2 linked regions of the Homo sapiens genome follow. The protein of the gene in region 2 interacts with the protein of the main gene of each other region in a pairwise test. Each region holds a gene or a part of one and is shown on either strand. Other genes may lie near its edges.

What was found. Proteins that work in one complex are often made in the same cells at the same time.
Region 1: the proteins of PRR16 (region 2) and NOD2 interact in binary tests that used the Homo sapiens proteins (3 or more experiments, as listed by UniProt).

The regions. Positions count from the first base shown.
Region 1 is NC_000016.10:50,700,021-50,703,752, forward strand, and holds part of NOD2 (nucleotide-binding oligomerization domain-containing protein 2), read left to right. Parts: exon of another isoform or gene 1-57; intron 58-3,732. UniProt on the Homo sapiens protein: Pattern recognition receptor (PRR) that detects bacterial peptidoglycan fragments and other danger signals and plays an important role in gastrointestinal immunity.
Region 2 is NC_000005.10:120,467,172-120,470,903, forward strand, and holds part of PRR16 (protein Largen), read left to right. Parts: intron 1-3,732. UniProt on the Homo sapiens protein: Regulator of cell size that promotes cell size increase independently of mTOR and Hippo signaling pathways. Acts by stimulating the translation of specific mRNAs, including those encoding proteins affecting mitochondrial functions.

The DNA of each region.
Region 1 (3,732 bases), on a different chromosome or scaffold from region 2:
TGTCCTCATGAAGTCAGCCTGTGGGGTAACTTGGTCCATGGGATTTCCCCTAAAAAGGTAGCCAGGCAGGTAAAATTTGCTCTTGACTCTTGGCAGGAAACGTACAACTCTTTCTTTCTTCTTTTCTTTTCTTTTTCTCACTCTGTTACCCTGGCTAGAATGCAGTGGCACAATCATAGCTCACTGTAGCCTTGAATTCCTGCGCTCAAGTGATCTTCTGGCCTTAGAGTAGCTGGGACTACGGCTGCTGTACCACCATGAACAGCTAATTTTTTTTTTTTCTTTTAGAGATGGGGTGTTGCTATGTTGCCCAGGCTGGTCTCCAGCTCCTGGCTTTAAGCAATCCTCCCGCCTTGGCCTCCCAAACTGTTGGGATTGCAGGCATGAGCCACTTTGCCTGGCCAACAGAACACTTCTGCCGAGAGGAAGTGTGTGGTGGCCAGGAACTCAGATTCTGGAGCCAGAATGGTGCAGGCTCAAGGTCAACCCTGTGTGATCTCAGGCTTCCCTATGGAGCCTCTCCAGCCTCAGTCTCCCTTGTTTCAGTTTCCTCATCTACAAAACAATGTTAATAGTCAAATGGTGCCTATCCTATAAGGCTCTTGGGAGGATTCAGTGAGTTAATTTGAGTAATGCTTAGGATAGTGTCTATTACCACTGGCTGCTATTTATTATTTCTGTTATGAGTGATACTCTGTACTTGTACACTTTTATTTCTGTCTGTTTTAAATTAACAGCACAACAGACCATAACACTGCAGTATATTGAATTTATTTTATAATTAACATAGCATATTATAAACTAATATAGCTTAAATGTTTATGTAGGATTTCTGACATGAAATTGCATTAGATCATAGATGTTCAGAGTTGGTATATAACAGCCCCTGAGAATGTAGTAACTCAGCAGAGACCAGAAGGTCAGAGAAATGACCACTGAGTATTTTTGAAACTCTTTTGTTTTCTTCCAAATAGTGATTCTTAGGGCTCCTGAGAGGCAGATGGAACAATCATTAACATTCCACTTTATAAATCGGGAAGTTGAGACCAAGGAAAGTAGTTTGAATAAGCTCACAGTAGTTAATGAGGGGGCCAGTGCTGGACCAATTGGCCAGCACTGGTCATTGACTTATTCATCCATCATTCATTTATTCAGCCAGAATCTATTAGGTGCTTCATACATATTTGCTTAAAGTTTGTTGTGTTCATAGAGCTTTGCACACGGTAGGTACTCCATAAACATTTGTTGATGAAATAAGTGAGTTACTGAATGAATGATTGAATTAGAATGACACTGCAGTGTTAAAATGGGCTGGGTTGGGGAACATTTTAGTTTTTGTTTTTGTCTGTTTTCCAAAAATGTATGTGTTGTTCACATGAGTCTGGATAACCCTAGATTGAGATTGATGACATAAATAAATTTGTCTTCAAGGCTGCACTAAAGCTGGCTCACATGGCTAGGTATTTACAGAGCAGAAGTGGTGCAGTCCTCTCTGATTAGTTGCACGTACAGAAGACATATTCGTTATTGGACTGACCTTAGTTTCTCTTATAATTTGTTAGGGGAATTGAATCAGCCCATCTGAGAAGTTACAAGATTGTGTCTTGTCATCTTTAAAAGTTCAGCAATGTGATGTGGTACAGATGGTCTGAGGGGTTTGGAGAAGGTAGCCTAGATCCCTAGGGCCCAGAGAAGACAGGATGTGAACAGAGGAAGTACATGGATTGGTGAAGAAAAGAAATGGGATAACTCATGGGTCAAAGAAGAAATCATGATGGAAATCAGAAAATATTCAGAACCATACAATAATGAGAATATTATTTATCAAAATCTATTGGATGCAGCTAAAGCAGGACATAGGGGGAAATTTACAACCTTAGGTGCCTAGATTAGGAAAGAAGGAAGGCATTTGTTTATTTATTTGTTTATTTATTTATTTGAGATGGGGGTCTCACTGTGTCACCCAGGCTGCTGGAGTGCAGTAGCACGATCATAAATCACTGAAGTCTCGAACTTCTGGGCTGAAGTGATCCTCCCGCCTCAGCCTTCCAAGTAGGTGGGACACAGGCTAGCACCACCATACCAGGCTAATTTTTTTTTTGTAGACACAGGGTCTTGCTATGTTGAGGTCTCAAACTCCTGGGCTCAAGTAATCCTCCTCCCTCGGCTTCCCAAAGTGCTGGGATTACAGGCATGAGCCACTGCGCCCATCTAAGGCTGAATTTTAATGAGCTAAGAATTCATCTTAAGAAAGGGCTAAATAGACAGCAAAAGCAAACATTGAAGGTTGGGACTGAGCTGAGTGGGTAGCAGGGATGGGAGACAACAGATCTGAGGAGAGCAGGAGATTTTGAAAGGATTGCACTGCCTGAGGTTTAAGCCTTTAGAATCCAGCTCTCTCTGAGCTCCCTTTGAGCTCTGACATTCTGTGACTCTGATTTGGTGGCCTTCCCTTAGTGGCCTTACTGATTTCATTTGGATGGTGCTTGTGGTATATCCAACCAACATGTCTTCCCAAATGGCCTTTTAATTTCCTATAAAGAAGTAGTTGTCATTGATTGCAGGTTAGGGACAGAAAATGCTGTGGAATGAAACAAAATGCAAGTTAAAGAACTAAATTCCAAAAATACCCATTGCTACTATTGACTGAGTGAATTCCTACTGTGTGCCAGACACTGTACCCAGTCCATTCCCTGTATTGTTTTATTTAAGCCTCACAAGGGTATAGTGTGACTACACTGTTTCTTAACAATGAAGAAACTGCCCAAATCGCCCATCTGGGAAGCGGCCCAGCTAGAATTTGAATCCAGGCCTGTTTTCCTCCAGAGCTTGTGCTATTCTCTGTCTGTCATAAAATGTGGGGGCTTTGTGTGGTAAACTTGCTCAGTTGGGCATAGCAGTTGTTAGGAAACCTGAGGCTGGTAACACCAGCTGTAATACCAGCTGTCCGTCTGACTCATGCAACTGTTAAAGTTGATAGGGCTGAGGTGTCAGACTGAGCTCTGAATTGCCTGATTCCTATAACAATATTAACTTAAACATTTTTTAAATTGGGAAATGCACCATGCATACAGAAGAGTGTGTATATTTCATATGTATAGTGTAAACTGTTCCCATCACCCAGGTTAAAAAACAGGATGTTGCCAGTACCTGGGGCCTTCTTTAACTGCAACTGCTAGAGGTAAACACTGGCTTGACTTTTGTGTAAATCATCTCTTTGCCTTTCTTTAATGTTTTAGCATCTTTTAAAATAAATCCCCAAATAATGTATTGTTCTATTTTGAAAAACTGAGTAGCAAGCCAAAAATAGCTGTGTAAAGAAAGGTCACTTAAATTAGGCTGGGTGCAGTGGCTCAAGCCTTTAATCCCAGTACTTTGGGAGGCTGAGGCAGGTGGATCACAAGGTCAGGAGATCGAGACCATCCTGGCCAACATGGAGAAACCCCGTCTCTACTAAAAATACAAAAAATTAGCCAAGAATAGTGGCATGTGCCTGTAGTCCCAGCTACTCGGGAGGCTGAGGCAGGAGAATCGCTTGAACCCGGGAGGCAGATGTTGCAGTGAGCCGAGATCGCACTGCTTGAACCCGGGAGGCAGAGGTTGCAGTGAGCCAAGATCGCACCACTGCACTCTAGCCTGGGTCACAGAGCAAGACTCTGTCTCAAAAAAAAAAAAAAAAAAAAGAAAGGTTACTATTGCCTTTTCTTAGATGAAGGTTCCCAAGGCAGGGAA
Region 2 (3,732 bases):
AATGTTGCTATTCATCATATTCAGTATTCTGGCAGCTTAAAATTAGTACGTGTTAAATATAAACTGCTATATTTAGAATTCTAATTCCTTTATTGGCAATGCTATGCTTTTAGACCATAATATATTTTAATATAAATTATCGGCGAGCTCTTCTTAACTTGCAACAGAAATTAAAAATAAAAAAGTAGTTATGACTATATCACTATGGCAGTCATCATATAGTATTTATTTTTTCTTTCTGCTTTTAAAAAATATCTAGTTAAAATGCAATCTTCTTTAATTCTGTTCTTTGTTTTTGTGTAATTTCTGCACCAACAATATTAAACTTTGGTTTGAGGTTACTCTGAAATTGCTTTTCTTCATAGAAGTTTTCTGGGCTTAAGTCATCTGAAAACTCAGGTAGTAGGATAGAATCAAACATAATAGTAATTGCTTGAAACACTTTAATAAGTAGTGACAAAACTCTAGTCTGCTCAGCAAGAAGAGTTGTTATTTTGGGTATCTGTTTTATGATTATTTAGTTATAATTACTTAATCAGTTATAATTGGATTATATATTAGAAGCAGAGGAACAGGCTTTCTAGAAAGTCAAAGAGCAGCCTTATTCTACTCTCAGAATTTAGTAAAATCTCAAATAATTTGACTTTTCAGAAATAATATGGGTCCTTTTGTTTTCTATGCTATTAATATATTGGAAAAGCCTTAAATATAATTCAGTATACTTATTGAGCACCTACCATGTTCCAAGTACTATAACACCTTTTAAATTGCTACCAAGATGAATAAGGCATAGTTTCTGGTCTCAGTGAGCTCCAAAGGTTAGTTAGGGATATATTTATCCTGTCTTCCAACATCAGCAGTATAAAAAGACATTGTGGCCTTTAGTGGCCACTCTCACTGCAGGCTTGGGGAAATCGAGAATTGAGAATGAGAGTGAGTATATGTTGATTTATAAAATGATGTGTGCTGCATACTTAGTAGTATGGCAAGTCTTTGATGAAGAAATAAGCTTAAAAAGATGAAAATATATGAATTTTAAGAAATTTACAGTTGACTTAGATTGTCATGGTTAACATAAATGGATCAATACCATATACAGGAGATTACATATTCAAATGTTGTAACTAAATACTGAAGATTTCCATGAAAGCTAAGTCTTTTGGAGAAATGGAGAGTTAAAAAGGAAGATTTTGAATTCTTCTTTTTCTTAATGTAAATAGGGTTTTAAGAGGTAGTCACAGGTAAAAGGAAATAGGTTTGGACTACAAGAGTAATCCATGTTGCATTTTTCTACACATTGAAAAAAAAGAAGAAAATAGTGGTGAAACTCTAGAGTTTTAGTGATAAAATTAACCATAACTGGTAGAGTAGGTGTGAGTGATACTTTTTCACTAAGAAATGTAGAAACAAAGCAATTGCTTTTTAAAATAGTTCTCAAATAATCTAATGCCTTTGAGTAGCAATATGCCTGTTCTTTTATGAAGATCTCACTGGTAAACTATTTTGCATTAAATGCTGGTATTAATATGGGATCACATATCTTATTGGTCAGAGTGACACTGGAATCTGTAATAATCAGCCTTTTATCTGGAAACAAAACTAATTGCAGCTTTAGCTGGATTCTCTTTTAGTTTAGACTTGTTATAACCTTGAGCTTTTCTTGTAGTGTTTATTTTTATGATTTCAAGTAACAAGGCTACTATATGAGTTGAAAAACATATGTAAATAATTTCTTGAGAGGCTTTCTGAATAGACATGACTCTAACAGAGAAACTAAAATAAAGTTGTTTTGTTGTTGCCTTAGAATCACTCAGTGACTGGATCTCCATTGGTGAGAAGTATGTCAGCATTGTTGCCATGGACTGGAAAGCACCCATAATTTGTCTTACAATGGCATAAACTGAAATAAATTTAAGTTGAATTTTGAACAATTTGAACCCCATAGGAAACAGTCTGATTTGAACTGATGAAAACAGAATTAACAATTATCTGAAAAATATTTTCACTTCTAAATGTTCCCTCTTTTAATGTCTTAACCACTTGATGTTCTATAGTTTATTGTCTGGAAATTCCTACCGAGTATTTTTTGGTTAATGAGCCCATGCATAAAAAATTCGTTACAAGAAAAAATTATAGAGAATAATCTCGGAACTATTTTCTTTTTGTTTGAGACAGTATCTTGCCCTGTCACTTAGGTTGTAGGGCAGTGTTAGAGATCTTGGCTCACTGCAGCCTCCATCTCTTAGGTTGAAGGAGTCTTACCACCTCAGCCTTCTGAGTAGCTGGGACTAGAGGCATGCGCCGCCATGCCTGGCTAATTTTTAATTTTTTTTTTTTTGATAGAGATGGTGTCTTGCCATATTCCCCAGGCTGATCTTGAACACCTGTCTTCAAGTCATCCTCCTGCTTAGGCCTCCCAAAGTGGTAGAATTATAGGTATGAGCCACCATGTCTGGCTTGAAGTATTTTCCAAGTTCTAAAGTTGTGTATAAATAGAATTTAGTAGTTCTTTTAATTGTAGCAATAGTCATACTTTTACTACTTTATACCACAGTCTACCTCCCCAAACTGTGGTATATTTACCAAATGCTAAAATGCTCTGAAATTTTTCTTTACTTAGGCATGATGGCCTAGCAGTTACCAAAAATAATTTTGAGAACATAGAGGTAGCCAATAATCATCCATCACTGTCTATTTCCAATGAATTAAAACATTCAACACTTAGAGAATTAGCTGATAAGAAATTCAAGCAGCCTTAAAGTAATAGATAGTGTGTTTCAGGCAACAGTGAAGTAATAGATAATAAAGCCAGTGTAATAGGTTTCATTATTACCTGGATTATGTTATTTTCATCCTTGCTTCTCTGAGGATCTCAGGTACTTAAATCTAAATGTAGGAAAAAAGATAGAAATGCAAGTTTGAGCAAAACATATTTTCCCAAACTATAGAACTTTTCTTCTGTAGAGATAGTTCTTGAAAAATTTCAGGGGCAATTTTAGAGATTTAGAGTAATAAAATTCCAGTAGGTCGCTGATTCAACTCTGATTGAAATATACATGACTGACATCAAGCTGCAAATACAAAGTTAACAAACAACAAAGGGCACTATTAAAAAAATCAAATTTATTTTTTCTGATGTTAGGAGCAGCACATGAATATTATAGAAAGTTTGCAAAAATCTAAAGAAATATAAAGGAGAAAACAAAAATTATCTTTAGTACCACATAAAAATAAGTATACTAAACATTTTGTCATATTTTCTTTTAGTCTTTTTGTATGCATATTTTAACATAGATGAAGTTATACAAAGTTATAAATTATAAGCAATGACATTTTCTACTTTCTTGAATGATATAGATCGTAACTATTACACAGATTTGCTATAAGTTACTTCATACTTCCCTTAATATTGGGTATTCTATTTATTTCCAGCTTTTCATGGTTATTAAACGTCACTAGAAAGAGCAGTTTTGGCAATATGAATATCTAACAGAGGTCTTACTCTCTGCCAGGTACTCTTCTCAGCGCATTTATTTATATTAAATTATCTAATTCTCAAAACAGGTAGATGAGGAAGTTACTGATATTGCCCATTTTACACATAAGAAATCTGAGGTCCGAGATAGTAAGTCATTTGCCCAACTCACTTGTCTTGTAAGTGGAGAAGTGAAGCTTCATTGCCAGGTAGCTTGGTGTCAAAGAACAGCATTAACCGCCAAGCTCTTTCACGTT